Homo sapiens: one gene and its partners. The protein of the gene in region 4 interacts with the protein of the main gene of each other region in a biochemical or structural test. Each region holds a gene or a part of one and is shown on either strand. Other genes may lie near its edges.

The links.
Region 1: of the proteins of CDK7 (region 4) and GTF2E1, one has a biochemical effect on the other in vitro, tested with the Homo sapiens proteins (3 studies listed by BioGRID, with this or other methods).
Region 2: of the proteins of CDK7 (region 4) and CCND2, one has a biochemical effect on the other in vitro, tested with the Homo sapiens proteins (one study listed by BioGRID).
Region 3: the proteins of CDK7 (region 4) and TCEA1 form a complex in vitro, tested with the Homo sapiens proteins (one study listed by BioGRID).

What each region holds. Positions count from the first base shown.
Region 1 is NC_000003.12:120,773,231-120,781,139, forward strand, and holds part of GTF2E1 (general transcription factor IIE subunit 1), read left to right. Parts: intron 1-3,192; coding exon 3,193-3,434; intron 3,435-7,812; coding exon 7,813-7,909.
Region 2 is NC_000012.12:4,269,597-4,277,419, forward strand, and holds the start of CCND2 (G1/S-specific cyclin-D2), read left to right. Parts: upstream 1-4,165; 5' UTR 4,166-4,444; coding exon 4,445-4,639; intron 4,640-5,699; exon of another isoform or gene 5,700-5,881; intron 5,882-6,408; coding exon 6,409-6,624; intron 6,625-7,823. UniProt on the Homo sapiens protein: Regulatory component of the cyclin D2-CDK4 (DC) complex that phosphorylates and inhibits members of the retinoblastoma (RB) protein family including RB1 and regulates the cell-cycle during G(1)/S transition.
Region 3 is NC_000008.11:54,018,714-54,026,828, reverse strand, and holds the start of TCEA1 (transcription elongation factor A protein 1), read left to right. Parts: upstream 1-4,380; 5' UTR 4,381-4,703; coding exon 4,704-4,766; exon of another isoform or gene 4,767-4,796; intron 4,797-8,115.
Region 4 is NC_000005.10:69,258,318-69,266,226, forward strand, and holds part of CDK7 (cyclin-dependent kinase 7), read left to right. Parts: intron 1-1,500; coding exon 1,501-1,619; intron 1,620-3,887; coding exon 3,888-3,987; intron 3,988-7,909. UniProt on the Homo sapiens protein: Serine/threonine kinase involved in cell cycle control and in RNA polymerase II-mediated RNA transcription. Cyclin-dependent kinases (CDKs) are activated by the binding to a cyclin and mediate the progression through the cell cycle.

The DNA of each region.
Region 1 (7,909 bases), on a different chromosome or scaffold from region 4:
TAACATCCTGGAGGTGGTATTGATTTGGCCTTTCTGTACTATAGGAGTATGAAGTTTTGAAATGGCCCATCCTGCCCCAAGGATGTAATAGTCCATCCTGCCTCAGTACAAGAGAAGAGGCATCAATAGAATGGTATGGGAACTCAGAGATGATAGCTTTTCTTTTTTTAAATAAGTGGCAATATTATTAGTTTGATTACTGATCTGTAATCAGTTAAATTCTAGCTTGTCCCTAGATCAGAAACTAGGGGCTACCTCTGCAGAACTGTCAGTAGGCCTAACCCAAGAATTGATGGACAATTCTATCCTTTCAGCAAGTCAACCTATTGATGAGATATAAAAATCTTCCTATCTTTCTAGAGTGGAATTCCTTGCTAGTAACCTTCCCTTTTTCATCATCTCTTAACACTTACCTTAAAGATTTTTAAAAATTTAGTTTTGAAATAATATTCCCCTCTCATCTCTGAGTAAGAGTTGTATCTTTTAAAAGTTCTAAAATTTATTAAATAATATAAAAAGATTCAAACATGAATTGTCATTTTTGTCATCTTCAATTAAAATTGTTCCAAATTTTAAAATTTGTTTGACTTATGGTCAAATGTCTGCTGCCTCAAACTAGAATAAAACCCATCTTGAATTTCTATGACAGAATACTAAAAACAAAAGACTTTTTAAAAGTACTCTTGTGTTAACATTTATTTTAATTCTGTTCTTTTCTCTCTAGCTTTCTTGTTTTTCTCAAAGTACTCCTCATACCTTCATAAGACAGTCTTTGTAGTCAATGCTAAAGATAGAGAATAGAGAAAAACTCTGTGTTCAGGATTATATATAAAGAGAAGCAGTAACCTCAGAGTGAGTGAGTCATTTAAGTCTGAATCAAGGAAAGATAAGGATGTGGTTGGCCAGATCAGAGAAATATGCCTATTCTGTCTCTCCCAGGTGGGTTTAGCTAACTCAGGGAGAAACATTTTGGGGTGGCAGATATATAGAGCAGGCTCAGCACATCAAGATGGGGATGTTGGCTGAGGATAGAAGAGGCATTGAAAGGAGTCAGAGAGACAAATGGGTGTGAGAGGAGAGGCCAGAATGTAGAATAAGCACAGAAACATAAAAAACCAGATCAGACCAAGAGAAAAGAGAAAGTAAAGTGAATGCTGAAGAAGAGAAAAGTTCGAAAAGCCAACCTATACAAAGTAAGCAGCATCATATTACAGTGAAGGCAGCCACATAGCCTTTAAAAGACCACACAGAACAGATAGAAGATAGAGAATGACTAGGGACAGTTAATGGTTAAATTGAGATGAACAAGAAATGATACACAAAGTAACATCAATGAATGCAGAAAGAAATAGCAGAGAGAAACCAGTTATGTGCAATTGTAGCATAAGACTTCAGAATATAGCAAAAAAAAAAAAAAAATAGATGGATTGGATATATTTACAGAGAGATGCCTCATAGGTCTAGACTTAGAGTGGAGAGCAAATAACTGGTAGAAAGTAGGAGCAGTGAGGAGGCAAAAGAAGTGATTGAGACATGGAACAGGTAGAACAGGCACCGGGAAGAAAAAGGCTGTGGGAGAAAGTGGTTTACAAAGTAGCCCTGGGCACAGAGGTGGAATAATGAAAAGTATGCAAACGCAGTACCTGGAAGGCATGGATTAAATGACTGGATCAGTGTGGACTGGGCAACTGGAGATAACATTATTTTTTTGTTGCACAAGTAGCATGGCCCTATAGATATCCAGAGGCAGGACAGGATAGGTGGGATGAGCTAAGCCCAAGTTTACCTCCAGAGGATGGTCAGAAACACAGTGTAATTTAGGGAAAGATGTGATGGGCTAATCAGATACACGGACACAGACCTCAGCTAAGTATGAGTTAGAAAACCCCAGTAGATAAGAAGTGGACCCAGAACAAGTGAAGAGTAAGGGAGTAAGCAGAGATGAAGTAAGACAAAAGTGAAGGCAAAATAGTGAATGGCTTAGGAGGAAAGACTAATGAAGTATTTATTAGATTCAGAATGAGTCGGGGCTCCACACAGGAGATAATTCAGGATCCATGGAAAAGAGTGAGAAAAACGGACGAAAAATAAAGGAGAAACGTGAGACCAGGTCAGTCATGGACACTGAAAGAAACACCCAAAAGGTTTGGAGTGAGCAGGCAGTTCAAGAAACATGAAGATGGTTACAGGATAAAAAATAGCTGGACAGAGCGGGAGGTGGAGAAGCATACGTAGAAGTTGAAGTGGAAAGCATCAGTAGCAGGCAGAGAAAGGCATGAGCTCAGACAGAGAATCAGGCATATTCGAAAGAATTTGGAACAGATTGAGAGTGAAACAGGCAGATAAAATGGGGAACCATCAGAAATACTGAAAACTTGGCCTAACACAGAGGTTGGGGGGAACTTAAGTGACTAGAAGATAAGGAAATGATCAGACATGGAACAGGCTAACAGACAAAGAAGATCGTGGGTGGTAAAAGTAAAAAGCAAAATAAAATAGACTGAGAAAAACAGACCATTGTTACTGCAGAGTAGAATCAGTGGTTGGAGATGGATACAGAGTATCAGCATAGATGTGGAGATAGAAACATACAACTACATAGAAAAGCAGCTAGTTTGTGCAGAGGGTTATACCTTACTGCATGAGTGGTGGGAGAAGAACGTTGGTTGAGGTCAGGCTTTGTAGAATAGTTTTCTAGCTTTTTCCATGATCAGCACACAAAAGAAAGGAAAAAGCACACAGAACCACTTTGAATTGTTCTGGGTTGAGCTGAGATAACATTTTTAAAAATACAATGTGTTTTGTTTTTGTTTTTTAAACAAAATACTGGGAGAGATTTTTGTCAGACTAGTGGCTTTAAGTAGATGATGTCACCATATCACTTTCTCCTTCTCCAAGTATTAATAGATTTATTGAAACATCTTAAATCTATAAAACCTCAGTCATTTATATACATCAGAGGATCCCATGTTTGAGGAACTTAAATATAAATATGATGTGTTTTTCTAACGCATACAACTTTTACCCTGAGGTATAGAAGCACTTTCTTGGAATTGTTAAAGCATGTGTGCATGATTGCTAGGTAGCATTTACATGTAGTATTTCAGTAATTGCCTCCCTAGCTGCCCTTCTTTTCCAACACCAAGACATTAATTTTTCTTCTTCCTGTACTCCTCTATTCTTTTTATATAGCAAGGACCATGCAGCAACTACTGCTGGAGCTGCTAGCCTAGCAGGTGGGCACCACCGGGAAGCATGGGCCACCAAAGGTCCTTCCTATGAAGACTTATACACTCAGAATGTTGTCATTAACATGGATGACCAAGAAGATCTTCATCGAGCCTCACTGGAAGGGAAATCTGCCAAAGAGAGGCCTATTTGGTTGAGAGAAAGCACTGTCCAAGGGGCATATGGTTCTGAAGATATGAAAGAAGGTAAGAGTAGAAGTCAGTAAAATGGATGTGTCTTAGGTTCTGTAGAACATGAACTTGGCTTAGTGGGAAACTGCCTGGGCAATTCTGGATCTGTTCTACAGAACAATTAATTGCATTATATTAGGAAGTAAGAAATTGAACAATAAGATAAAAACCAACTAGTATACTTCCATTGCCCTTCAACTTAGTGAAAATAACAAATAGCCTTTTAAATTTTCATTTTTAGATTTGAAAAATTGTCATCTTTTTATCTTAATTTCTTGGAAAAATGCTATCTGTTGTTTTCAAGGTAGCCATACTCACCTTTCCTTTAATCTTATATTACCCTGACTTATATGCATTTAATTTTTCTGAATTGGGAGCCAAAACTATACGCTACCCCAAACTTTATGTTTTCTCTTCATAAATACCAAGGAGTGTATGCTACCTGAAATAGATACAAAGAGACCACATGAATAAAGGATTGAGCATTCTCACAGTCCAAGACGGTTAGCAGAACTTTGTTCTAGAGGATTTTGGAAATTTCTGAGGCATAAAGGGTTAAGAATTGCATACTAATCTTCGGAAGTTAGAGAACTGCAAGATTTTACTTTCTAAGTTTTAGTCTAAGTTACTGCATTCAAGACTTTGAGTGATGATGGTTTAGGAGTATGTAGAAAATGGGAGGCAAAAATGGATGACGATGACTCAAGCTGGAAAGTAGAGAGGAAGGGTGTCTCTATTTCTTGCTGAATTTTATCAGTGTAACAATCAATGTGCCGCTACTCCCAAGTTAATATATCATTACTAACATATCACGTGAGTTTGGTGATATGTTAGTGCCAAAGAATAATCAGTAGCTGAAAACCACTTGTTTTTTGGCGTTTCTCCTAGCCTCTTTTCCCTTCATAATTAGCATTTAGTATATGTATATACTAGAAATTGTGAAGGTAACGTGGAGTTTGGTAGTGATGGTAAAGCAGCTAATACCTCTACTGTGATTCTCTTTGATATATTAATTTTAATAAGAAAAGGTTTTCCAAGGCAACCATACTTTACCCTCCTTCTTCCTCACTGATTAGCCTGCCATGTTAGTTTTTTTGACGGAGTCTCGCTCTGTTGCCTAGGTTGGAGTACAGTGGTGCGATCTTGGCTCACTGAAACCTCTGCTTTCCGTGTTCAAGTGATTCTCTTGCCTCAGCCTCCTGAGTAGCTGGAATTGGGCGCAAGCCACCATGGCCAGCTAATTTTTGTATTTTTAGTAGAGACGGGGTTTTGCCATGTTGTCCAGGCTGGTCTCAAACTCCTGACCTCAAGTGATCTGCCTGCCTCGGCCTCCCAAAGTGCTGGGATTACAGGCATGAGCCACTGTGCCCAGCCTGTTGTGTTATTTAGATTGAAGTTGTTTTAGATTATACAGTAGTTAGGCTATACTACTACTTAATAAATTTGTTTTCCCCAACTTGGCTTCTTGCCTGTTCTTAAAGCAGCCTTCTTTTCTTTGAACTTAGGAAGAAAACTGAATAAAATAAAATTATTATTAACCAACATTATATATTAAGCTCATAAGTTTAACATTCTAGTTTACAGTTCCTAAAATGATAGAATATGAATCATATGGGCCTTAAATAAGTTATCTGGTCTACTTAAGTTTTGTAAATATTTATTTCTGCATAAAATAGGATAGTATGTTGTCATGTCTGAATTTATCCTAAGTTTCTTGATAGTAGAGCAGACTCTATCCAGTGAATGTATGAAGTGGGTCTTAACACTTGATTTTCCTCAAACTTCAAGTCATGTTGATATCTTTCACAATTGTATCGACTTCAATCATGTTCTCATTACTATACTGAAGAAAGTTCTAATTCCTTTTGATTCTGTTTTCCTTAAACAGTTCTCTTTTCCACTGCTGCCACCTCCTACAGTTTTTGTTTATTTTTGTCTTTTTCTGGACCATCTCTAATTGTAATATACTTTACTTGAGACATAGTGACCAGAATGATACATGTTGTTCATGCATGGATTCACCATTGATTTGAGTTTTATTTCCAGTATCTTTCTGGTTTTTACTTGAGATTTTGTTTGTTGCTTTGGTTCTGGAAGCATGTTAAGACCAAAAACTTCTAGAAACACGTAGAGGTACTTTTTAGGTTCTTCTGTGCCTTGAATCCAATAGCTTGGATCATATCTTTCAGTATATTTTAGATTATTTTTCTGCAGGCTGATTTTCTTGCACTTGCTGAAATAGAAATAGATCTGCTACTTTTCTGCCCACGTATACAACCTTCAGCTCTTCCTATATTTTTTTGCTGCAACTTGGCCTTTCAGTACCCACAATTGCTTAGCATCAATTCCGTGAATATAGTTTCCCAGTATACATCTTCTTTGTAATTTATAACTCTGTTGAAAAAGGCTGTTCCTAGAACCACTGTTTCTACTTTACCATCCAGAAATTTGCTCATTTATCCTTGTTTTTTGTTTTCTGTCTTCATCTGTAACAGAATAATTCTTTTTTCTCCAAACCTCTCAAGACCCTTGTCAGAAATCTGTTACGTGTGACTTAATTTAGTTTACAAAACTAATTTTCTTTTTCCCTAATTTAATACTTAAACATTAATCAAAATACTGTGTTGATATTATTAAACTATTTGGAACATTCTTTTAGAAGCAATTATTGTCTTAAAGGCTTGCATGCATTCCTTACCTTCTTTTCTTTCTGTTGTAGTGCTGCATTGGCAGTAAGCTCTAAGGAGGAGGTTCAGCCTTTGACAATATTTTGAAGTAGTTAAGTTTGATTTTAACTCTCATTTTGACAGTCATGTTATCAAAAGCCTCTTTTCTCTGACCTAAACTTTTAACTTGTCTGCTTCTGTTTCCCTTTCTCTCTCTTATCTGCTCAGTATCTCATTTTAGGAGTTCTGTGCCTTCTAAAATGTCCAGGGATTTAGCTAATTCATTTTAATGTGTTAATGAGAAGATGCTTTCACTTTATCCATAGTCAGAATTGACCATTTCTGAGTCTTCTCTTGATGACGATGATGATAGATAACACTATTCTAAGTGCCAGGCCCATTCTAGACACTTCACAGACATTCACTTAATCCCCACAGTAATCTAGTGAAGTAAATACTATTTTCCCCCTTTCTGTACTTGAGAAAATTGAAGCGGAGAGATGAAATAACTTGGCCAGAATCATACAGCTAAATAGTGTTAGGATTTGAATCAGGGAGTCAGGTTCCAAACAATACTTTTAATCTTTTTATGTATTTTAAATGGCAGTATGTTTGGTAGTAGTATCAGAATGCAGAATGCAGATGGTTTTCTTAAATATTTCATCTGCAGTATATCAGGTAAGATATGTACACAAAATGATAGGAGGTGTGTGGTGAGAGAAGCTTCATTCCTAAAATTAGATTCTTTTTTTATAAAGAGTTTTAAGTATGCTTAGTTTGCTTCATGAAAATAAAACTCACATTTATTCACTCATTTGTCAGATGTTTATTCAGTGCCTAACAGAGTGGCAGGTACTATTTAGGTAAATGGGATATATCCATGAATAAACAAGATAAATATCTGTTGTGGTAGAACCTACATCCTTGGAAAGGGGGTGACAAAGACAATAGATGTAAGTTATTCATTATGTTAGGAAATAAGTGCTATGGGGGAAAAATAGAGCATTGGGAATGTAGGGATAGGATACATTTAAAAGGTAACATTTGAATAAAGACATGAAAGATGGAAGGGAGTTAGCTGTGTGAGTACCTAAAGGAAAAATATTCCAGGCAGAGGGAACAGGTAATGCAAAGGCCCTGAGGTAGGAGTGTGTCTGATATGTACAAGGAATACCATGGAGGCTACTGTGGCTAGACAAGAATGAGCAGGGGAAAGAAGTAAGAGGTAGATGATCAGGAAGGATTCCAGATGATGTGGGACCCTATAGGCCATTGCAAAGCTTTTGGCTTTTACCTTGAGTGAGATAAAGAGCCATGTTTTGATTTTCTGTTATGCCAGCTACTCTAGTCGATTCTTCATAGACATTATCTTATATGTTTTTATTCAGAACCTTAGAAAGTAGATGCTTTTATCACCTCATTTTACAGAAAAAGGTATTGAAGTTTAGAGATTAAATAACTTGCCCAAGATGCTTGTGTGTAGAAGAACCAGGATTCAAATCTATGCTATAATACTCTTAAAGCCAATGTACTTGACCATTATGCTACTTAAGCTCCAGTTTGTAAGAAATATTTTGAATATTTTATGGATAGCAGCTCAAAAATGGAACCAGTGAAGTCTGTTATTTTATCGTATTATTTAAATATATGTTAAAATATTGTCTATATGCTATAAAGAAATGCCATTTATATTTAAGGATATTGACTTTCTGAGTTTTACTCCCCAGGGGGCATAGATATGGACGCATTTCAGGAGCGTGAGGAAGGCCATGCTGGGCCTGATGACAACGAAGAGGTCATGCGAGCACTGCTCATTCACGAGAA
Region 2 (7,823 bases), on a different chromosome or scaffold from region 4:
AAAGCTTATTGGAAAATTCACTTTTGTAAAGCAAATGTATTTCCAGAGCTATTTTCGGCCGCGTGAGGCGTGTCCTAAGCTGAATCAGACAGGAAGAGGGGGAAGTTCGGGTCTTTTAATTTTTTTTTTTTCCGAAGGGAGGGGAGTGAGATGCTAGGTGGGTGACAGACGGCAGGCGCTCGCCTTCTTAACTCACGCCTGTCGCATCTGCCGCCTCAGTAATCCAGCCCCGTCCAAGCCGAAATTCGCCGAAGGGAGTGCGGATGCACAGGCCTGGCGGACTCTGCCCCCCTCCAGAACGCAGCGGCCCAGCGCCCCGGCGGGCGCGGCTGCGACCAGAGGGTCCCGGAAGCGAGTGAACACCTGCAATCGCACTGCCCGTCCCCACCCACCCTGCTCCCCCGTGCTCTCCGCTTCCCGACGTTTTCCTCTTCTCCTTGTCCGCATTTTTCTACTTTGCCTGCACTCCCTCCTTCCTCTTGATGTGCCTCCTATGTGTCCCCTCGGATTTATGTGTCCCCTCGCATTTTGCCAGTCGGGTTTTCGGTTTTGATTGACCGTCCATCCCTCCACGGAGAAACACAAACACAGCTCCACTCTTTGGGGGAGCCGAGGGGAAGGCAGTGGCTCCCATTTCTGAGCCTGAACTCAGTCACTACCCGCTCCCCACCTGGCCTAGGCGCCCCTGCGCGGAGAAGGCGGGACTCGAACTCGCGCTGCTCCCGGGCCTTGAGCCGACCGCGGAATCACCTGGCTGGGAGGCATCCTCCAGGTAAGCTTGGGAGTATGTGTGCTTAGTGCTGCAGGCTCCTGCAGAAAAGTGCCTATAAACACCCAACACCCTGCTGCACCCTCCACCTCCAGGCTTTGTACACTTTCCAACCGAAACTCCAAAACGCTAGCGTAGAGGGTGGGGAGCCGGCCGGAAAAAGAATAAAAGTCCAATAAAACTGGCGTTCGCTAAAGTTTATCACCAGTCCTACATGGGATATATATATATGTATTTTTTTTTCCGTGAAGGGTGAAAAGGAGATAAGGAAGAACCAACAATCTACCCCCTCCCGCCGCCCCCCACCCCCGCGCCACGGTGATCAGTTTGGACTTCAAAGCCAGAGCACAGGCTCTTGCGCTTTTTCTTGAAACCGAAGTCTACACTGAAAGAAAGTGTGCACTTTTGCCTAGAAGGCAACATGCGTTTTCCCGCGTGCTAGGTGGAGTGCATTTTAACAAGACATTAGGGTTTTAACACATGGCTGGAGTGGCGACCAAAAGGGAAAACTCAGTTTCCAGTCCAAGCCTCCTAGAGACATTCCTGCCAACCTCCGCACCCTCTCACGCCCCACCCCACGTGTGAGAGTCTGCAAAACCACCGGGGATTGGATTCGATGGCGAGCTTCACGCTCGGGAACAGTCAGTAATCGGAAGGGGAAGTGGACAGGGGAACTTCAAGAGGCGAGCCTGCCACGCGGGAAGCGCCCGAACTTGCGGGTCTCCATGAATGCAGAGGGCGCCGGGAAGGGGGGGCATCCGGCCGCGACCCTCTCTGCCCCTCCCATTCGCTGCCCCCCTCCCCGCTGGAATTTCTCTGTAAAGCAAGACGGAGTAGGGGGAGGGGGAGAGGGAAGGGGCGAGAGGGCCCTCGGCTCACTCCCGAGACGTGAGGACTCGCCACCCAGGCATTCTCCTCGGGGTGGGCTGGGCCCCGGGACGACCACCCGCTTCTTCCTCGCCCCCGCTGCCCCCACTTCGGGAGACCCAGAGCTCTGGATGCCTTTCCCCGGAGAAGGGGGGGTGTGCGGAGTCGGGGTGGAAGAGACCTTGCTCGCAGAGCTATATCAAGTGATGTCCAGAGGCTGGGAGCCCCGGCGGCCTCTGTCCCTTGCCTGTCGGGTTAGATTTATACTTTAAAAATACCTCCCGCCCTCCCTCCTTCTCTCGCCTCTCCCCGCTGCAACTTTCTTTGATCCGCTCAAAGGTGGCTTAGGTGAAATTGGAGTAATTCCCTTATGGGGGTCTTAAAATGTAAGTGAATGTCCTTATCCGGGGTGACTCAAAAGCTTAAGTCGGGAAGCCCAACGTGACTAAAACCAATAGGTGATTGTTCGGGGCCGACTGTGTGCGGGTGTACACGGTATTCGGCCCGGGTGTCATCCGCGGCGCTGGACTGTTTCATTTTGAGTTTGCAACTTGGGTTTTTCAGCGAGCTTTTTTTCTTCCTGAAAGCTAATGGCTTCCACAGCAATTAGACATTTTCCTCGCCCGCCCCTTCCCTCCCCTTTCTTTACATATAGGAGATGGGATACTCATTCCCGCTGCTATTGATAAGGTCGGAGGCGGCCGGGCCTCTCCCCAGCTTTCGCCCGCCCCAGCGCCCGCTCTCCCTCCGCCCTCCCTTGGCTTCCTTTTGATGTAGTGGGGAACGCGTCCTACTAAAAAAAAAAAAAAAAAAAAAAAAAAAAAGTAATCTGCCCGGTAACAATCAGCGCGCAGTAGCAGGAGCCCCAGAGCTATTGGCTATGCAAATAGAGGGAGGGGAGACGGCGCCCCAAACTCTTCCTCACCCTTTTAAAGCGATATCCCCTCCTTTCCCCCCCACCACCCCTTCCGCCCCACCCTCGTTTAAAGAGGCTGGCTCCGGGGCCTGAGTTAATCGCTTGCACCTCTAGTTTATTCGCTCCCCTCCTCCGCCTTGCAGGGAACCTAGTGTACGGCTCACCCAGCCCGCGCCCCACCCCGCCTTGCTGGCTCTCCGCGCCCCTGCCCGGGCCCCCTCTCTCGGTGAGGGAGGCACTCAGTCGGCCTCGGTGTGCCCAGAGAGCTCGAGCCACGCCATGCCCGCTGCACGTGCCAGCTTGGCCAGCACATCAGGGCGCTGGTCTCTCCCCTTCCTCCTGGAGTGAAATACACCAAAGGGCGCGGTGGGGGTGGGGGGTGACGGGAGGAAGGAGGTGAAGAAACGCCACCAGATCGTATCTCCTGTAAAGACAGCCTTGACTCAAGCATGCGTTAGAGCACGTGTCAGGGCCGACCGTGCTGGCGGCGACTTCACCGCAGTCGGCTCCCAGGGAGAAAGCCTGGCGAGTGAGGCGCGAAACCGGAGGGGTCGGCGAGGATGCGGGCGAAGGACCGAGCGTGGAGGCCTCATGCCTCCGGGGAAAGGAAGGGGTGGTGGTGTTTGCGCAGGGGGAGCGAGGGGGAGCCGGACCTAATCCCTCACTCGCCCCCTCCCCCTCCCGGGCCATTTCCTAGAAAGCTGCATCGGTGTGGCCACGCTCAGCGCAGACACCTCGGGCGGCTTGTCAGCAGATGCAGGGGCGAGGAAGCGGGTTTTTCCTGCGTGGCCGCTGGCCGCGGGGGAACCGCTGGGAGCCCTGCCCCCGGCCTGCGGCGGCCCTAGACGCTGCACCGCGTCGCCCCACGGCGCCCGAAGAGCCCCCAGAAACACGATGGTTTCTGCTCGAGGATCACATTCTATCCCTCCAGAGAAGCACCCCCCTTCCTTCCTAATACCCACCTCTCCCTCCCTCTTCTTCCTCTGCACACACTCTGCAGGGGGGGGCAGAAGGGACGTTGTTCTGGTCCCTTTAATCGGGGCTTTCGAAACAGCTTCGAAGTTATCAGGAACACAGACTTCAGGGACATGACCTTTATCTCTGGGTATGCGAGGTTGCTATTTTCTAAAATCACCCCCTCCCTTATTTTTCACTTAAGGGACCTATTTCTAAATTGTCTGAGGTCACCCCATCTTCAGATAATCTACCCTACATTCCTGGATCTTAAATACAAGGGCAGGAGGATTAGGATCCGTTTTGAAGAAGCCAAAGTTGGAGGGTCGTATTTTGGCGTGCTACACCTACAGAATGAGTGAAATTAGAGGGCAGAAATAGGAGTCGGTAGTTTTTTGTGGGTTGCCCTGTCCGGGGCCCCTGGCATGCAGGGCTGGATGGAGGGAGAGGGGTGGGGGGTGGCGGGGGACCGCGTTTGAAGTTGGGTCGGGCCAGCTGCTGTTCTCCTTAATAACGAGAGGGGAAAAGGAGGGAGGGAGGGAGAGATTGAAAGGAGGAGGGGAGGACCGGGAGGGGAGGAAAGGGGAGGAGGAACCAGAGCGGGGAGCGCGGGGAGAGGGAGGAGAGCTAACTGCCCAGCCAGCTTGCGTCACCGCTTCAGAGCGGAGAAGAGCGAGCAGGGGAGAGCGAGACCAGTTTTAAGGGGAGGACCGGTGCGAGTGAGGCAGCCCCGAGGCTCTGCTCGCCCACCACCCAATCCTCGCCTCCCTTCTGCTCCACCTTCTCTCTCTGCCCTCACCTCTCCCCCGAAAACCCCCTATTTAGCCAAAGGAAGGAGGTCAGGGGAACGCTCTCCCCTCCCCTTCCAAAAAACAAAAACAGAAAAACCTTTTTCCAGGCCGGGGAAAGCAGGAGGGAGAGGGGCCGCCGGGCTGGCCATGGAGCTGCTGTGCCACGAGGTGGACCCGGTCCGCAGGGCCGTGCGGGACCGCAACCTGCTCCGAGACGACCGCGTCCTGCAGAACCTGCTCACCATCGAGGAGCGCTACCTTCCGCAGTGCTCCTACTTCAAGTGCGTGCAGAAGGACATCCAACCCTACATGCGCAGAATGGTGGCCACCTGGATGCTGGAGGTAGGTCGGGGGGTGGCGCTCGCCAGGAGCCAGGACCCCTCCGGATGCTCGGGTCCCCGGCCGGAGCCCTAAACCTGGGAGAGGGCAATCCCCGCGCCGGCCTCCCGGCTCCTGTGCGGGAGTTTACCGCGCGCCTTCTGGCGAGACGCGTGGCTTTATTTCTGTTCCTCTCCAGATAAACTGGGGAGGCAGAGGGGGGAGGAAAATCTGGGAGAAGCGAGGCTGTCCTGGGCGGGGGTAGGGGAGCATCCCGCGCGCGTGTTCCTGCATGTGGCTGCCTCTTCTTCCCACCCCCCTCGCGACCTGTCTTTTGCGAAGCCGCCGCGGCTGCTTGCGCTGCGGCCAGGAAGAGAGTCGGGGCCTGAAATCGGGACCCCGAGTAGAAAGGCAACCCCCCCCAAAAGGCCAGAGCAAATTCGTCTTGGCCTCAGGTCCCCGCCTGTGGTCGCGACTCCGCGCTGGCACTTCACCGGGGAGGTGGAGGGAGGAGGGAGAAGGAGAGAAACGGGGAATTCGGGAGCCCCGGAAGTCCCATTGAAGAAACGCGTGTTTCAGGGGAACCCAAAAGAACCGCTTCTTGCCCCTCACTCCAAGTCTTTGCCCAGCGAGCCGTGTGCCCACGTATGCACAGCTCTGGACCTGCCGTGGTTTCGCCATGTTGCTTTGCAAACTCCCTTTGGAAAGGCTGGGAAACGTCGCCCGCTTACCCTCGCACCCCATTATCCCGGCCACCCCACTTCTAATCGTGCCCTCTCCCCCACCCCCCACCTCACGAAGATTACTTACAGTTTGGTTTTCCAGCTTCCTCGGTGCGGAGATTTGGGTGGGGTAGGAAGGGGGGGAGGGGGTGTGTGTAGGGGGGATACCGGGTCACCCCTGAAGGAGAGGTGGGAGCCCCCCGTGCCTCTTTCCAGGGCTCTCTGCTCCCGTCTTTCCCCTCGCTCGTCACCGCGTTCCCTAGTTTCTGTCCTTGTGGGCCGCAGCCGGACACTCCCGCCGCGGCGCTCACCCCTTCAAGTTTCCTCCCGGGATCCAAAGCCCCAGGGGTCGGAATACAGACCTTTCTGGCACCCGAAACCTCTGTTTCGGGAAGCCTGGCTCTTCTTTGGGGTTTTCACGCCAAAAGGGCTTTTCTAGGATATTTCCTCGATTTTTAATTATTTTTTGAAACCATCCCCCCCTGCTCCGACTCCAGCTGCCGAGGCTGCGGCGCTCTTCCTCCTCTCCTCCCTCCCCCTCTCTTCCCCACCTCTCCTCACCCGCCCCCCCAAAAGCGGCCCCTGGGCCGCAGGGACCCCCCCAGACATTTTTTCCAATTGTCGGGAATGATAGAGGAGGATCTGGGGATCCGGATGAGACCAAGAAGTGGACCCCCGGAGCCTCCAGAATATTTTTATTGATTTTTTGAAAAGATGACGAAATCCAAAAAAGAGTGAGTGAGTTAGAGTGCGCGAAGGAGTAGCCAAAGGGAGCGTCGCGGAGCTGCCGCGGCTGCTGCGCACTTCTCCGACTCCCCGTTTTGGAGCTGTAGTTCACCCCCTTTTATAGGATCCCTGGGAATACCAAAGCACTGATGGGCTATTCTGATTCACTCCAGTTTCCTCATCTTTGTTCTTTATTCTTATCACGCATTCTGGTCCCCTCCCCCTCCCACAAAAAAAAATTAATTTTTTTTGTTTCGATAGATTACGCTTTTTTATTCTTTTTCTCTTTTGCTGATGCTATGCTCTCCACCCCCGCCCCCCAACCCTTTCCCACTCCCATTATAGGTCTGTGAGGAACAGAAGTGCGAAGAAGAGGTCTTCCCTCTGGCCATGAATTACCTGGACCGTTTCTTGGCTGGGGTCCCGACTCCGAAGTCCCATCTGCAACTCCTGGGTGCTGTCTGCATGTTCCTGGCCTCCAAACTCAAAGAGACCAGCCCGCTGACCGCGGAGAAGCTGTGCATTTACACCGACAACTCCATCAAGCCTCAGGAGCTGCTGGTAATGACCGGCCCCTTCCTCCCTTCCTTTCTGCGATTCCCGCTTTCCCCTGGCCAACAATATGCCTTCTATCACCACTGCCAGAGCAAATTCTTGGGATCCAGAATGACCCCACCAATAGAATTTACCCACTTATGGGCGATAGCTCATTTAATAGGAAACCACTGTTTATTTTTTGTGTGTTCCTACTATGTGCCCAGGCTCCGTGCCCAGCACTGAGGCTACATCTGTGAATAAGATCCTCATGGAGATTTGGGTTGGTGAGACTCATTTGCAATTGTGTATGCATGTGTGTAGGGGACGCATGGAATATTTTAATTAACAGTGATAATATTTTAATTAAATTCCAAATTTCCAAAAATAGTCTGAGAACGTGTTCACATGATAGGTATGTGGCTGTGGTGTCTCCTAAAAACTTGGAGTTCAAAGGTAATGCCCTCTATATCTACAAAGTCTCAAGATACCAACACATAATAGCTGTTCACTAAATATCAGTTCATTGACTTTTGAGCAAAGTCAAAATGTGGCCTTTCACTGAAGGAGTCCGAGGCCTGGGTTCCTACCTCCAGTGGGACTGTGACCTCTGTACAACCCCAGGGATCCTGTCTTATCTCTGCTTTTCTACCAGGGAACCTTTTTCCCACCTGATCTAACTCCTTTTCCCTGCAGCTTGACATATAAGACGACCATATTGCAGCTGTACCGCATGGAATAGCGGCTCCAAGGCCCACCTTCGGTGGTTTGCACACCCCTCTTTGCACTGTTCAGAAAAGCACCCCCTCCTTCCCGCCCCTCCCCCTCCTCACTGGTAGGGCCCGCACAAAGTCCACAGGGCTGAGGCTGGCTTCTTGAACTGAGCTCTTTGTGAGGAGCCTTCCTTTCTGGGGCTCTGCTGCCATCTAGTGGAAGACATGCACAAGGTTGGGGGAGGAATTGCCGAGAATGTGGAGAGGGGCCTGAATGACTTCACCTTTGAACCGCTGCCAGGTTTTAGCTGCTTCTGGTTTGGTCCGAGAGGCCTAGAAAGGTGCTTTCTTCTGGGAGATCTGCTTCCTTTAATAACGGTGCAAGACCAGTGGTTCGTACTCGCATTACCCTGTGAAGAGGAAGGGCTGGCATTTCAAGCCATCTTTGAAGATGATGGTGGTTTAGTAGTTTATTGGGGTGCTTTACCCCGGCTGTACACAGAAAGCCAAGGC
Region 3 (8,115 bases), on a different chromosome or scaffold from region 4:
CTCAGCTTGGGCGACTGTGAGACCCTGTCTCAAAAAAAAAAAAAAAAAAAGACTGAAAAGATAACCCACAAAATGGGAAGGGAGACAATGATTGAAAAGCATATTTATCTCAAGGCTCTAGAGTCCAGAATTATATAAGAACGTTTACAACTTAACAACATAAACACAACTCAGTTAAAAATTGGGCAAAAGACTAGAATAGACATTTCTCTAAAGAAACCATAGAAGGCCGGGGGAGGTGGCTCATACTTGTAATCCCAGCACTTTGAGAGGCCGACGTGGGTGGATCACCTGAGGTCAGGAGTTCCAGACCAGCCTGGCCAACATGGTGAAGCCCCATCTCTGCTAAAAGTGCGAAAATTAGCCGGGGGTGTTGGTGCTCCCCAGGAATCCCAGCTACTTAGGAGGCTGAGGTGGGAGAATTGCTTGAATCCGGGAGGTGGAGGCTACAGTGAGCTGAGATTGTGCCACTGTAATCCAGCCTGGACTGTTGTCACTCTGTTAGTGAGACCCCATCTCAAAAAAAAAAAAAAAAGAAACCACAGAAATGGCCAACAAGCACATGAAAACATGCTTAACATATTAGGAAAATGCCAATCAAAGACACAATGAGATACCATTTCATACCTCATCAGATAATTAGAATTCTAAAAATGAACTAAACAGGCTGGGCACAGTGTGTCACTCCTGTAATCTCAGCACTTTGGGAGGCCAAGGTGGGCAGATCACCTGAGGTCAGGAGTTCAAGACCAGTCTGGCCAACATGGTGAAACCCAGTCTCTACTAAAAATACAAACCATTCGCTAGGCATGGTGGCAGGCACCTGTAATCCCAGCTACTCCGGAGGCTGAGGCAGGAGAATCACTTGAATCTGGGAGGTCGAGGTTCCAGTGAGCTGAGGTCACGCTATTGCACTCCAGCCTGGGCAATAAGAGCGAAACACTGTATCAAAAAAGAAATAATAAAAATAAAAATAAAGGACAACAACAATTGTTGACAAAGATACAGAGAAGTTCGAGCCCAATGACGTTTCCGATGGGTATGTAAAAATGTTGCAGTTGCTGTGGAAAACAGATGGACAGTTCCTCGAATTTAAATGTAGAATTACCATGAAACCCAACAATTCTACTCCTAGGTTCACACCCAAAAGAACTGAAAACAGGTGTTCCCACAAAACTTTGTACAGGCATGTTCATAGCTGCACTATTCACAAGAGTGAAAATGTGGAGTAGTGAAAGGTGGGTGGAAACAATGCTTATGTCCATCATGTGATGAATGAATTTTAAAAATGTTATCTATAGGAAATGCATATTATTCAGCCATAAAAAGGAATGAAGTACTGACACGGCTACAACACAGGTGAACCTTGAAAACATGCTAAGTGAAAGAAGCCAGTCAGAAAAGGTCACATATTCTAGGATTCTATTTATTAAATATATAAAATGTTCAGAATATTCAAGAGTATAGAGGCAGCCAATTAGTGGTTGCCAAGGGTTGAGGGGAGAAAGGAATCAGGAGTGACTGCTTAATTGATACTGGGTTTCTTTTTGAGGTGATGAACATTTTTGGAAAACTTTTGGGAACTATCGAGTGGTGATGGTGGCACTATATTGTTATCATTAGAAATGCCACTGAATTGTACACTTTTTTATTTTATATTTACTTATTTATTTATGTTTGAGACGGAACCTTGCTCTGTCACCCAGGCTGGAGTGCAGTGGCGCCATCTCAGCTCACTGCAACCTCTACCTCCTGGGTTTAAGCGATTCTCCTGCCTCAGCCTCCCGAGTAGCTGGGATCACAGGCGGCCACCACCAGGACCAGCTAATTTTTGTATTTTTAGTAGAGACGGGGTTTCACTATGTTGGCCAGGCTGTTCTCGAACTCCTGACTTCAGGTGATCCGCCCACCTTGGCCTCCCAAAGTGTTGGGATTACAGGTGTGAGCCACTGCGCCCAGCCAGAGATCTTTATGTTTAAACATAGGTATCTACAGCTATACATTTCCATCTGAGTGTTGCCTTTGCTGTATCCCATGCACACTGGGTATGCACACACCAGGCCTTTACACTTTAAAATAGCTAAAACAGGCCAGGTGAGGTGGCTCACACCTGCAATCCCAGCACTTTGGGAGGCCGAGGTGGGCAGATCACCTGAAGTCAGGAGTTTGAGAACACCCTGCCTAACATAGTAAAATCCCATCTCTACTAAAAATACAAAAATTACCAGGGCGTGGTGGTGGGCACCTGTAATCCTAGCTACTTGGGAGGCTGAGGCAGGAGAATTGCCTGAACCTGGGAGGCAAAGGTTGCAGTGAGCCGAGATCACGCCACTGCACTCCAGCCTGGGTGATAGGCCGAGACTCCGTCTAAAAAAAAATAAAAAATAAAATAAAATGAATTAAAATCTAAAAAAATAGTTAAAAATGGTCTTAGACAAGGTAGCATGAAAAAAGAAGAAAAGTAGTTAAATGGATAAATTTTGTGTTATGTGTATTTTAAAGAAAAACATCAACTGATTCTTTGGGAAAAAAGAAAAATGACAGAATTATTACAATAAATGTACAAATCCACATTATAAAGGGAAATTTTTACATACTCATTAATTGAGGCATGAAGCAGACAGCAAACAGGGATGTAAATATTGCAACATTTTCTGTAGAAAACAATTTTTTTCTGTGTGTTCTTTTTTAGAACACATAGATATGCATAAAAATTGACGAGATAGGCCGGGCGCAGTGGCTCACGCCTGTAATCCCAGCACTTTGGAAGGCCGAGGTGGGCGGATCACCTGAGGCCAGGAGTTCGAGATCGGCCTGGCCAACATGGTGAAACTTTGTCTCTACTAAAAACACAAAAAATTAGCCGGGTGTGCTGGTGGGCGCCTGTAGTCCCAGCTACTCAGGAGACTGAGGCAGGAAAATCGCTTGAACCTGGGAGGTGGAGGTTGCAGTGAGCCAGCCGAGATGGCACCACTGCACTCCAGCCTGGTCAATAAGAGCAAAACTCCGTGTCAAAAAAAAAAAAAAATTGACAAAATAAATCTCAACAAATACTACAATTTAAGCTGGAAATCAATAATAAAAAGATAATTTAAAAATGAAACAAAATAGGGAAACGATCCCAATACTTCTCCCCCAAATGAGTGAGTCATAACCAGGAAAAACCTGTCATCTCAGTATAGAAAGAACATTATTAGGCGGTGTATTTTGATGAATGATAGTTACGTGGTGTGGGAGTTATACCTGCAAATAGCATGAGTTGGTCGTGAAGGGTTTAAGTGGGGAAAGACTTTTTGGAGGAGCCTGCATTCTCCACTATGAACCCTGTCACAACTTAAGTCACCTTCCTCTCTGATCCTCAGAAGCTGGTGGGATGCCTTGTGTAATTTCTGACCAGAAGGTTTCCGTCAACTGTTCTTCAACTATTCAAAATGCCATGCCCAAGACTGGTTCTTAGTACTCCAGGAGCTCACGAACGATTTCACCTTTATTTATTTTTTATTTTTTTTGAGACGGAGTTTCGCTCTTGTCGCCCAGGCTAGAATGCAATGGCAGTCTCGGCTCACCGCAACTTCCGCCTCCCGGGTTCAAACGATTCTCCTGCCTCAGCCTCCCGAGTGGCTGGGATCACAGGCCATGACGCCCGGCTAATTTTGTATTTTTAGTAGTGACGATGTTTCTCCATGTTGGTCAGGCTGGTCTCGAACTCCTCACCTCAGTTGATCCGCCCGCCTCGGCCTCCCAAAGTGCTGGGATTACAGGCATGAGCCACCGCGCCCGGCCGATTTTTTTTAAAAAAAGGAACGCTTAGCCGGGTGCAGTGGCTCAGGTCTGTAATCGCAGCACTTTGGGAGGCCGAGGCGGGCGGATCACTAGGTCAAGAGATCAAAACCATCCTGGCCAACATGGTGAAACCCTGTCTCTACTAAAAATACAAAAAATTAGCAGGGCGTGGTGGCGGGCGCCTGTAGTCCCAGCTACTCGGGAAACTAAAGCAGGAGAATCGCTTGAACCCGGGGGGGGGAGCTTGCAGTGAGTGGAGATCGCGCCACTGTACTCCAGCCAGGCGACAGAACGAGGCTCCGTCTCAAAAAAAAAGGAACTCTTAAAACGAGTAACTCCGTAACCTAACTTAGAGGACACGGGTTCCATTTTTCCCCGTAGCAGTCTCCTATGGAGAAAGTGCTTGGCTTCCCACAGACTTTAAAACCTGCCAAAGTTCCATGCTCGGAATCTGCCCCCGTTTCGAGATACTTGGGCCTCCGCGAGTTCTAAAACTCCGGGATGTCCCGATGCAATAGGGGGCCGAAAACCCGCCCCGTGAGGGGGCGGGACCGGAGGTGAACGCGCAGCAAAACCGGGCGCCTTCCACGACCCTCTAGCCGGAAGCCACGCCTGCCCACTAGCCCGACGCCCGCCTGGCGGGAACATGGGCTCGCCCCTCACCAGCGATCTGCAGTCAGTTGGTAGCGCCTGCACGTCGCGCGCGGTGTTCGATTGTCGCTGCCTGGGGAGGAGGAGCCGGAGCCGCCGCCGCCGCCGCCGCCGCCGCGGGCTTCGTTCGTAAGGAAGGGGGCCTAGGCCCGGGCCTGCGGTGGTGGGGGTTGCTGCGCGCCGGGGGTCGCTCCTGCTGTGTCTTCCGCTCCAGCTTCGCCCACTTCCCCTTGCCAGCGGGGTGGGCGCGGAGAAGACCTGCCGGAGCCATGGAGGACGAAGTGGTCCGCTTTGCCAAGAAGATGGACAAGATGGTGCAGAAGAAGAACGCGGTGAGCGCGGCGAGCGGCGCGGGCCGGGAGGGAGGCCGGGCCGCGGTCCGGCCCGAGGGGGCCGCCCCCTCCCTCCTTCTCCCTCCCCTCCCCCTGCAGCCTCCCGTCTGGGAGCCGGGCCCGCCGCGCCCGCGTCCCCGGGGAGGGTGTCCGGGCCCGGGGCGTCGGGTCCCGCGGCAACCTGCGTTAGGACCCGCTCGCTCTTGTATTTCCAGTCCCTGCTCGCTGGTGCCGTGTAATAAACCTAATCGATTTAGGGATTAGGGCACGCTCTCCGTTGACTTTAAACTTTCGTGCTAGTAAAACCTTGGCAATTTAGCTTAGGAATTGAAGCGTAGAAAGTCCTCAGAACTTGAAAGAATGGAGTCTTCCGTGATCCGTGGCCAACATCTAGAAAGAGCATCAAATAGAGGCTTGTGATCGGTATTAGACATCGGGCTGGTAAAATGTAAAACTTCTGTGTCTTATTTTTGAAGAGGGCTGAACGTCCGCCTGGTTATCTCAACTGTGCTACATGTTTGCTTAGCGATTAAAAAGGTAAAGTGTGCCAGTTTCTTGGCGAGTTGCTAAACGTTTTATAAAAAGCGGGTTTTGTCCTGTCGTAATGTACAGAAGAGTTAGGACTACAGCACGCACACTCACCGGAATGCTGGTAGAGGGATTTGGACAAATTATATTGTTGGGTATTTTCTAAGTGGTTTACAGTTAATACTGGTGGCATTTTTTTTGTTATTGATGAATATTCATGTAAGCATATGCTTTTGTGGTTTGTAAGAAATCCTCATACGACCAGTTTCTACAGCTTGCCCATTTGTGTGGCACTTTCAGTCCCTTGCTTCAGACTCATCTGTTCTTAGCTAAACATATTTTTTCGAGACGGAGTTTAACTCTTGTTGCACAAGCTGGAGTGCAATGGCTTGATCTCGGCTCACTGCAACCTCCGCCTCTCGGGTTCAAGTGATTCTCCTGCCTCAGCCTCCCGAGTAGCTGGGATTACAGACGTGCGCCACCACGCCTGGCTATTTTTTTGTATTTTTAGTAGAAACGGGGTTTCACCATCTTAACCAGGCTGGTCTCGAACTCCTGACCTCAGGTGATCCGCCCACCTCAGCCTCCCAAAGTGCTGGGATTACAGGCGTGAGGCCACTGCGCCTGGCCTCTCAGGTAAACTTATATAATTGTCCTCACCTAAATTTGTTTAACCACGTTCGGCACATTTTCATCATCAGTGTACCTGAAATAATTTTTCTTCCATCTATGAAGTAAATTCCATGTCAAACTAATGTGAAGAGAAAAGGGATGCTCTGATTTGTACAGCACTTTGGAGTTAAAAAGCATCTGCTCAAAATTCTTTTGTGACTCACACAGAGCTGTGAGTACATAAAGGGTATCCATTTTACAGATTAAGACACTGAGAGAGATTAAGTACTACTACTTAAATTAAGTACTGTGTAGTTTGGAATAAGCCAGGACCCAGGTTTTCTTCTGGACAGCATGCTTTCCACATGACAGCTAGATCAGGAATTAGTGTTAACACTAAATACGTAAGACTTCAAACATCCTCTGTTCCCCTTTTTCCTTTAACAGGTGCATTGCCTCGTATTTCATTTCATACCCTGTTAATCTGTATTTGCAAATTTTGGCCTTTTAAAGTATTTCCTGTTTATTTTCTGTTCTAGATATTACCAGTGCCATTTTTCCTCCCCATTGATATGGCCCTTCATTTCCCACTTCAAATTCTGGTTATTTGATAGGTTATCTGGTTATTGGAACATTTTCGTTATTTTGTTTAAACTGGAAGATTTTTCTCTGGTCTGGAGATCCCCAGACTTGCACAGTAGAAGCTCCCAGGGAAAAAAAGCCATTTGTTGGGTAATGTTCTCTCCAACTTAGGCTGTAATATGTATCCTTTAATCATCTAATGCATTAGATGTTTGCTTGATTTTGTTTCTTTCCTTGTAATAATGTTTCTAAGTAATTTTTTAGTGGGCAGGTGTGGAGAAGATAAATTCATATTTATCTGCAGTTCTCAAATCGTCAACAAATTTTCAGATCTTTTGTAATGAGTCTGGAAGAGAATGAGAATAAACTCCACAAATAATCCTCAAATCTAAGTTTTCTTCTCAAATCTAAGTTTTCAGGTAGTTCAAAACTTTTCCAGTATGAAAACTTGCCTCCCAAAAAGAAAGGTAAAACTGACTGGCTCTTGTACTTTTGTTTTCCCCAGCATTTTCCCTGCCTGTCCTCTGGAAATTCAAACAGGCTGATGAAATACAGAGAAAGAGAAATGGTCAGAATGACACTCCTCTTTTCCCCAACTGCATCATCAGCCTACAGATGGCTTTTTAAGTGTTCAGTAATTCAACAAAATGTGTTTTAGGGGTTGTAGAATTATGGTATATGTGTTTCTCTTTTTTTCGGTAGTTTTCAGATTTTTCTCTCAGCTTTTTTAATGTTTTATATTATGAAAAAGTTAACTTTTTTTTTTTTTTTTTGAGACAGTGTCACTCTGTTACCCAGGCTAGAGTGCAGTGGTGCAATCTCGGCTCACTGCAACCTCCGCCTCCCCAGTTCAAGCGATTCTCTTGCCTCAGCCTCCCTAGAAGCTGGGACTACAGGTGTGCACCACCATGCCTGGCTAATTTTCGTATTTTTAGTAGAGATGGGATTTCAACGTATTGGCCAGGCTGGTCTTGAACTCCTGATCTCAGGTGATCTGCCCGTCCTGGCCTCCCAGAGTGCTGGGATTACAGATGTGAGCCACTGCGCCCAGCCTGAAAAAGTTAACTTTGAAGAGTAATAGTTGTCATCAGAATTGACAAATTTAAGTGCAAATTTAGATATCATTTAAAAAAATATTTTAACATGCTGCTGCTTTACCTGAATAATTTTGTTTTACTAAAACCATAGGTGTCACACTTAACTAAAAACAGCTTACCATTTATTGAGCTATTACTCTGAGCCAGGTATTCTGCTAAATACTTACCCACCTTATCCCATTTATTCCTCAGGCAACTTTGCAAGATGAGTATTATCCTCATTCTGAAAATGAGGATGCTAAGTATTTAGAATAGTCTTAAGCCAAATAGCTAGTGAATGGCCAAGTGAAGATGTGAATCTAAATCTGTTTTGCTCCAAAGCTAGTACTCCTCTCTTAAGCTACAGTGTCTCTCTAGAAGACCCTTGCATCTGCTCTTGAACCATGCATGGATACAATTAAGTGAATACAAAATCAGGAAGTAAGAGTATGAACTTGCTGTTTTGGGGCAGGTGTGTTTCCCTAGTTACCTAGATCAATATCCTGACCCTAGTTCTACCCAAGATGTTGTCCCACATGTGTACTTGATCT
Region 4 (7,909 bases):
GCTGTAAGGACTCCATATTACTTTGTGAAATTTAGAACTGGAAGAGATCCAGTCCCTCATTTTTTTTTTTTTTTTTTTTTGAGATGGAATCTTGCTCTGTCACCCAGGCTGGAGTGCAGTGGCGCGATCTCTTGCTCACTGCAAGCTCCGTCTCCTGGTTTCATGCCATTCTCCTGCCTCAGCCTCCCGAGTAGCTGGGACCACAGGTGCCCGCCACCACGCCCAGCTAATTTTTTGTATTTTTTTAGTAGAGACGGGGTTTCACCGTGTTAGCCAGAATGGTCTCGATCTCCTGGCCTCGTGATCTGCCCATCTTGGCCTCCCAAAGTGCTGGGATTACAGGCGTGAGCCATTGCGCCCGGCCTCCTCATTTTTTAATAGATGAAGAGCTAAGTTGCTAAGTGACCTGACCATGGTTATATTTTTTTTCAAGGTTGGCTGCTGATAATGGACAGAGTATTAAAACATAGGTTTTGACCCAGGCATGGTGGCTCACTTTTGTGTTGCCAGCACTTTGGGAGGCTGAGGCAAGTAGATATCTCGAGCCCAGGAGTTCTAGACCAGCCTGGGCAATATAGTGAAAACTCATCTCTACAAAAAATACAGAAATTAGCTGGGTGCAGTGGTGCACACCTGTAGTCCCAGCTGCTCAGGAGGCTGAGGTTGGGGGATCACCTGAGCCCAGGAGGTGGGGGTTGCAGTGAGCTGAGACCTCACCACTGCACTCTAGTCTGGGTGACAGAGTGAAACCCTGTCTCAAAAAAAAAAAAAAGAACATAGGTCTTTTGGCTTTAAGTTCAGTATTCTTTGTGCTACAATGTTGTTGTGGGGAAAAAAATATAGAGATGGTCTTGGATTAACTCATACAATGCCAAAATACTAGAAAAGTAATGTTTCTTGTAGCTCTAAAATTCAAGGTACAAAATACAGTTTATGAAATAGTGGGAACATTCAGCTTTTAGAACAAAGCTGATAATTTAGCTAGGTAGATGCTAGCTACCTAGCTATTTAGATAAGTAGCTAAGAATATATAATTTATAACTAGTAATTCTCATATCGTAAGTTTGGAATCCCTCTTAGGTTATTGCTGATGTCTTTTTAGCATGGATTTTGAAGAATGTCATCCTCATTCTTATACATTAACAACGTATATTATGAAAGTTCATATTTATTATTAATAGTAGGAACCATTTATTGAGTGCCTACTATGAGCCAGTTATTACACTAGACTACAGAAAATATCAGATTTAATCCTCACAGAAACTCTATGAAGTATGTAAATTATGGCTTAGTGAAATTAAGTTCCTTACCAAGGTTATATATTATAACCAATCCAATTTTGCTTTGATGGGATTTTATATCAGTGGGAAAAAAATTGATTGTTTAGATTTCAGGTGTTACCTTGTTTTTGCTAAGTTTAAAGTTATGCCAACTAAATGTAGCACTACAGTGTTCTCCCCTACCCTGCTTATTTGTTTGTTTAAAACTTCCGTCATATAGGATCTGAAACCAAACAACTTGTTGCTAGATGAAAATGGAGTTCTAAAACTGGCAGATTTTGGCCTGGCCAAATCTTTTGGGAGCCCCAATAGAGCTTATACACATCAGGTTGTAACCAGGTAAGAATCTCTTAAAGCTACATGTGCAGGAGTTTGATCAGAAATGAGCATCAACTGGCTTCTCTGAACTATCTTGGCAGAGTTAAGGAATCATTGTTGATAGATACCGTCTTAAAAAATACTGCCATTTGGCCAGGCGCGGTGACTCATGCCTGTAATCCCAGCACTTTGGGAGGCCAAGGCAGGCAGACCCACGAGGTCAGGAGTTTGAGACCAGCCTGGCCAACATGGTGAAACCCCGTCTCTACTAAAAATACAAAAGAATTAGCTGGGCATGGTGGCGCACGCCTGTAATCCTAGCTACTCAGGAGGCTGAGGCAGGAGAATTGCTTGAACCAGAGAGGCAGAAGTTGCAGTGAGCAGAGATTGCACCACCGCACTCCAGCCTGGGCGACAGAGAAAGACTCCCTCTCAGGGAAAAACAAAAAACAAACAAAAAAAAAACCTGTCATTTTTATGTTAGGTATACTTTACCACGATGAAAAAATACATAGCCCCTTTTCAAACAGAGTCTAACTTAATCCTAAGACATTTACCTTGTAAATGGGAACAATTTATACTTTAACATTTTAGTTAGATAATCTAGAATTTCAGTGGATATTCTTCTACCTAATCATCTGATTTATTGGACCCATTTTTATTATGTTGGTCAGTGCTGATTCTGTATCCTTCTATGTAAATGAAAATTCTCTAAACAGAGCAATGTCTTGATATTTGAATTTTTCATATTGGTAATTATATTTTCCATTTGTATTTTTGATGTGAAAAAACAGAAAATCACATTAAATAGGAATGATAGATTTTATAATTTTTGTCCCAGTGGCATTTTGTTAATTTCCAAGACCGTTTTAAGGATCTGCAAAGATTTTCAAATTCTGTATTTTTTCTTTTTCTTTTTTGAGACAGGATCTCGCTCTGTTGCCCAGGCTGAAGTGCGGTTGTGCAAACAGTACTCACTGCTGCCTTGACCTCTTGGGTTCAAGCAATCGTGCTACCTCAGCCTTCCAAGTATCTGGGGCCACAGGCACGCCCCACCATGGCTGGCTAATTTTTTAAAGTTTTTATAGAGATGGGTTTCGCCATGTTGCCCAGGCTGGTCTCAAAGTCCTGCACTCAAGCGATCCTCCCACCTCAGCCTCCAATAGTTTTGGGATTACAGGTGTGAGCCATTGTGCCTGGCCCCAAAGTCTCTATTTTAAATTATTTTGCCACCTTCTTCCAAATAGATGTCACTGAGTATAAATCACCTAAGCCCTGAGTAAGAAGTAGGGGATGTGAGTAATTGTTTATGTAATTGCTAGAGCAGTTAAGCTCAACATTCAGGAACTCATAGAAACAGGGACCTGTGTACAAGAGCATTGTTAACAGAGCTTTCTCATCTACCAGTTTCTCATATTTTCTCTGTCTGTAAATCAAATGCTGCTGGTAAATCAAATTAAGATGAAGACTCTGGGAATTGACAATGGGATTTAGCAGTGTGGACATGACTGATAAGCTTGATAAGAGCAGTTTTGATGGAATGGTAAGGATGAAAGCCTGATTGAAAAGGTTCTCTGTGTGTGTGTGTGTGTGTGTGTGTGTGTGTGTGTATGTGTGTGTGGTGTTTTGTTTTGAGACGGAATCTGGCACTGTCGCCCAGGCTGGAGTGCAATGGCGCGATCTCTGCTCACTGCAACCTCTGCCTCCCGGGTTCAAGCAATTCTCCTGCCTCAGCCTCCCAAGTAGCTGGGATTACAGGCGCCCACCACCATGCCTGGTTAATTTTTTGTATTTTTAGTAGAGACGGGTTTCACTATGTTGGCCAGGCTGGTCTCAAACTCCTGACCTCGTGATCCGCCCGCCTCGGCCTCCCAAAGTGCTGGGATTACAGGCGTGAGCCACCACACCCGGCCTGAAAAGGTTTTAAGAGAGGATGGAAGAAAAGGAATTGGAGACAGTAAGAATAGACAATTCTTTGAACTGGGCAGAGAATGAGGAGGCACCTATTAGGGGAGGTAGGGTCCAGAGAAGTTTAAGACTGGAAAAATACTGGTATGTTTGTACATTGTTGGGAAAAGTCTAGTAGAAAACAAAAGACTGCTGTAGGAGAAAAAGGAGAGAACTGCAAGAGTATTATATTTAAAACTTCATGAAAGAGTATGGTATCTAGTCCTTAAAGTAAGGGATTGCCTTTAAAAACAGAAAACAGACAAGGATCGTTCATCCCTAGAGATAGAAGTGCTTTGATAATTTCATGCTAAAATGATACTAATTCTTTTTGTTCTTTAGGTGGTATCGGGCCCCCGAGTTACTATTTGGAGCTAGGATGTATGGTGTAGGTGTGGACATGTGGGCTGTTGGCTGTATATTAGCAGAGTTACTTCTAAGGGTAAGTCTAAATTAATGTACGCACTTTAATATTGTTGTTGCAGTTATTTGTTCTGACAGTTTGTATAAGAATTCTTGTCCTAGGCCAGGCATGGTGGCTCACGCCTGTAATCCCAGCACTTTGGGAGGCCGAGGCAGGTGGATCACTTGAGGTCAGGAGTTCGAAGCCAGCCTGGCCAACATGGTGAAACCCCATCTCTACTAAAAATAGAAAAATTAGCTGGGCATGGTGGCGGGTGCCTGTAGTCCCAGCTACTCGGGAGGCTGAGACAGGAGAATCGCTTGAACCTGGGAGGCAGAGGTTGCAATGAGCCAAGATTGTGCCACTGCACTCCAGCCTGGGCAACAGAGCAAGGCTCCATCTCAAAAAAAAAAAAAAAGAAAAAGAAAAAGAAAAGAATTCTTGTCCTGCCAATGTCTTTACAACAAAAAGCCTACAAATAGTCCAATTTTTAAAAAGCCAAATGTAGCATTTTTTAATGTTAATATGAAATGAGAATATCTTCCATTTAGGACAATAAGAACTTTACTGTAGAAGTTTTATACTTCAGAACATAGAAATTCACTTGTAATATGGCAGTATCTCTATAACAACTAAATATGTTCAGATAAACTTTTGTCCTCCTGAGGGTTTTTTTGTTTGGGTCTGTTTTAAGTGCGCTTTAGGAAATGTATAATACCAACCACTGCAGCTACTACTCTGTATAACTTAAGCCTTGTGTGAGACCATTATTTTAGTTCTGTTGAAACAGAACAGATACAATGTTACTATAGCATTTCTGTGACTGAGACCATCATCTTACAGTAAAAAAAATCCCCTGCTTCCCCTCACCAGAGAGAAAGATGCTGACTTGGAAACTTCTCTTTAGCTATGAAGTTTAGATCTCCAGAAAGACTAGCCCTTACGAATGATGAAGGTAAAGGGATACAGGGGAATCCTTCTGAAGCTAGTTTTTTTCTCTCCATATTCTGACCCCTGCTCTCCCTCTCCTTAAGCCATATGTATTTAAAGAAATTCAAACCAAGATTGAATAGCTTTTTTATCTCCTTGAACACAGAAAACAACTTTTGTACACCAAAGAGAAAAACACTAAACTAAAAATGTTTAGTTTAAGCATAGTGGTGGCTCACGCCTATAGTCCCAGCTACTTGGGAAGCTGAGGTGGGAGGATCACTTGTACTCAGGAGTTTGAGGCAAGCCTGGACAATATAGCAAGACCCCAATCTCTTAAAATAAAAAAAAGTAAATTCTGTGCATCATTTTGAGAAACTTACCCAATGGGCATTTGTAGAAGAAACCCACACATTCAAACTTGGAAGGTAATATGGGAATCACAGTGCTAACAGGGGGTCCTGTGAATCAGCTGGCATGATAACTGCTACTTACCTGAACATAGAGTATACCAGAAATTCACACTGAGAATTTATCAACCACCACAATCCATTCATGGCCAAGAAGAAAACAGAATTCCATAGCCCCTAATGTTATGACTGATCACTCCATTGAGAAAGCAAATGAAGAGAGACAGCAGTTGAGAGTAGACAGGTTAGAGATTGTGGACCTGTTAACAATCATACTTGGAAATTTATTAGCCATTGGCATTGTTGCTGGAATCATCTTTAAAGTTATAAGGAAAATGACATGCAGACTAAAGAATTGTACTCTTCTGCCATACCTTTTGTCCTATTTTAAGCTGTTCTTGTGCTCAATTGAAAAGGTAGAAATGTTGCCCATATGAATGCTTAGCCAGGGATCACCAGATAGTTATTAAGGATCTTCAGATAGTAATGAATACTTCCAAAATGAAAGGCAGACTGAAACAAACTAAAAAGAAACTTGGAAAAAATGGAAACAACCAAAGCAGAAGAAAATTCACCGCCCCCAGCCCCCTTTCCAAATATTCAGAGATCTAAGAGATTATAGTGCATCTATAGAATAAGCACACCATACTTTTTTAAAAGGGGAACAATAAAATAAGAGACACTTGAACTATTAAAAATAGAAGATAGCCAAAAGCAAACAAAAACAGTGAAAGGAATGGGAAAGTAAGCTGCAAAACTCTTTCATTAACTAAAATCAAAAGATGAAGAGATGGCTAGGCACAGTGGTACATACCTGTGGTCCCAGCTACGTGCGAGGCTGAGGCAGGAGAATCTCTTGAGCCCAGCAGTTCAAGACCAGCCTGGATAACATTGTGAAACCCTGTCTCAATAAAAAGATAGATGGACTATAGTAGAGAAAAGATAAAATTAACAGATTGATCCAGGATTCTAGAATGTACCAACAGAAAACAAGGAAAATGGAGGGTAGGAAATCTCAAAATAGTGAAGCACTGCTAGATGTGAATCGTCAGACTAAAAGTGCCATGAAGAGTACAATTATGAGGCCGGGCGCAGTAGCTCATGCCTGTAATCCCAGCACTTTGGGAGGCCGAGGTGGGTGGATCACCCAAGGTTGGGAGTTTGAGACCAGCCTGGCCAATATGGAGAAACACTATCTCTACTAAAAATGCAAAATTAGTTGGGTTTGGTGGCACATGCCTGTAATCCCAGCTACTCAGGAGGCTGAGGCAGGAGAATCGCTTGAACCCGGGATGTGGAGGTTGCAGTGAGCTGGAGATCACACCATTGCACTCCAGCCTGGGCAACAAATGTGAAATTCCGTCTAAAAAAAAAAAGGCCAGGCACGGTGGCTCACGCCTGCAATCCCAGCACTTTGGGAGGCTGAGGCAGGCAGATCACGAGGTGAGGAGATAGAGACCATCCTGGCTAACACAGTGAAACCCCGTCTCTGTTGAAAATACAAAAAAAATTAGCTAGGCGTGGTGGCGGGCACCTGTAGTTCCAGCTACTCGGGAGACTGAGGCAGGAGAATGGCATGAACCTGGGAGGTAGAGCTTGCAGTGAGCCAAGATCGCACCACTGCACTCCAGCCTGGGTGACAGAGCGAGACTCCGTCTCAAAAAATAAAAAAAAAAATGAGTACAATTATGAAAATTACAAAGAAAACTTTCAAAAAAAAATTCTAAAGGCTCTGCATGAAAAAAAAAAACCTGTGCCAAGACACACTGTTGTGAAATTTCAGAATACGAAGGGGTAAGAAAAATATTTTATTTGCACAGAGAAGAAAAGCAGCATACATAGAAAAGAAAATAAAGTATTAGGGAAAAAGAATGGCATGAGCCTTCTCAACAGCAGCACTGGAATCTGGAAGTGTTCACATTGTGAGGGAAAATGATGCTCAACCTAGAATTCTTTGCCTGTTCATATTTTCAGTTTGCTCTGAGGGTAACTACAATTTATTACATCAGAAATTTACATCTAGGCCAGGCAGGGCAGCTCACTCCTGTAATCCCAGCACTTTGGGAGGCCAAGGCGGGTGGATCACTTGAGCTCAGGAGTTTGAGACCCACTTGGGCAATGTGGTGAAACCCTGTCTCTACCAAAAATACAAAAATTAGCCGGGCATGGTATTGAGTGCGTGTTTTCCCAGCTACTCAGGAGGCTGAGTTGGCAGGATCACTGGAACCTGGGAATTTGAGGCTGCAAGGAGGTGATATCGTGCCACATCACTCCAGCCTGGGTGACAGAGCAAGACACTAGCTAAAAAAAAAAGAAAAAAAGAAATCAAGAAATTAGCCAGACTTGGTAGTGCATGCCTGTAGTCCCAGCTGCTTGGGAGGCTGAAGTGGGAGGATTGCTTGAGCCTGGTTGTCAAGGCTGCAGTGAGCCACGTTTGTGCCACTGCATTCCAGCCTGGGTAACAGGCTGGGGTTCACCTTTAATTGGGCTCTGCAGGCGCTGCCGCACTCTCCACCTGGTGTGTATAGGGCATTTGGGGCCTTTAGAGGGCGCACTTGCGGTCAGCAGGCTGAAGAGGCTGCGGCGGCGAAGGCTGGGGAGCTGAGCTGAGCTGGTGCAGA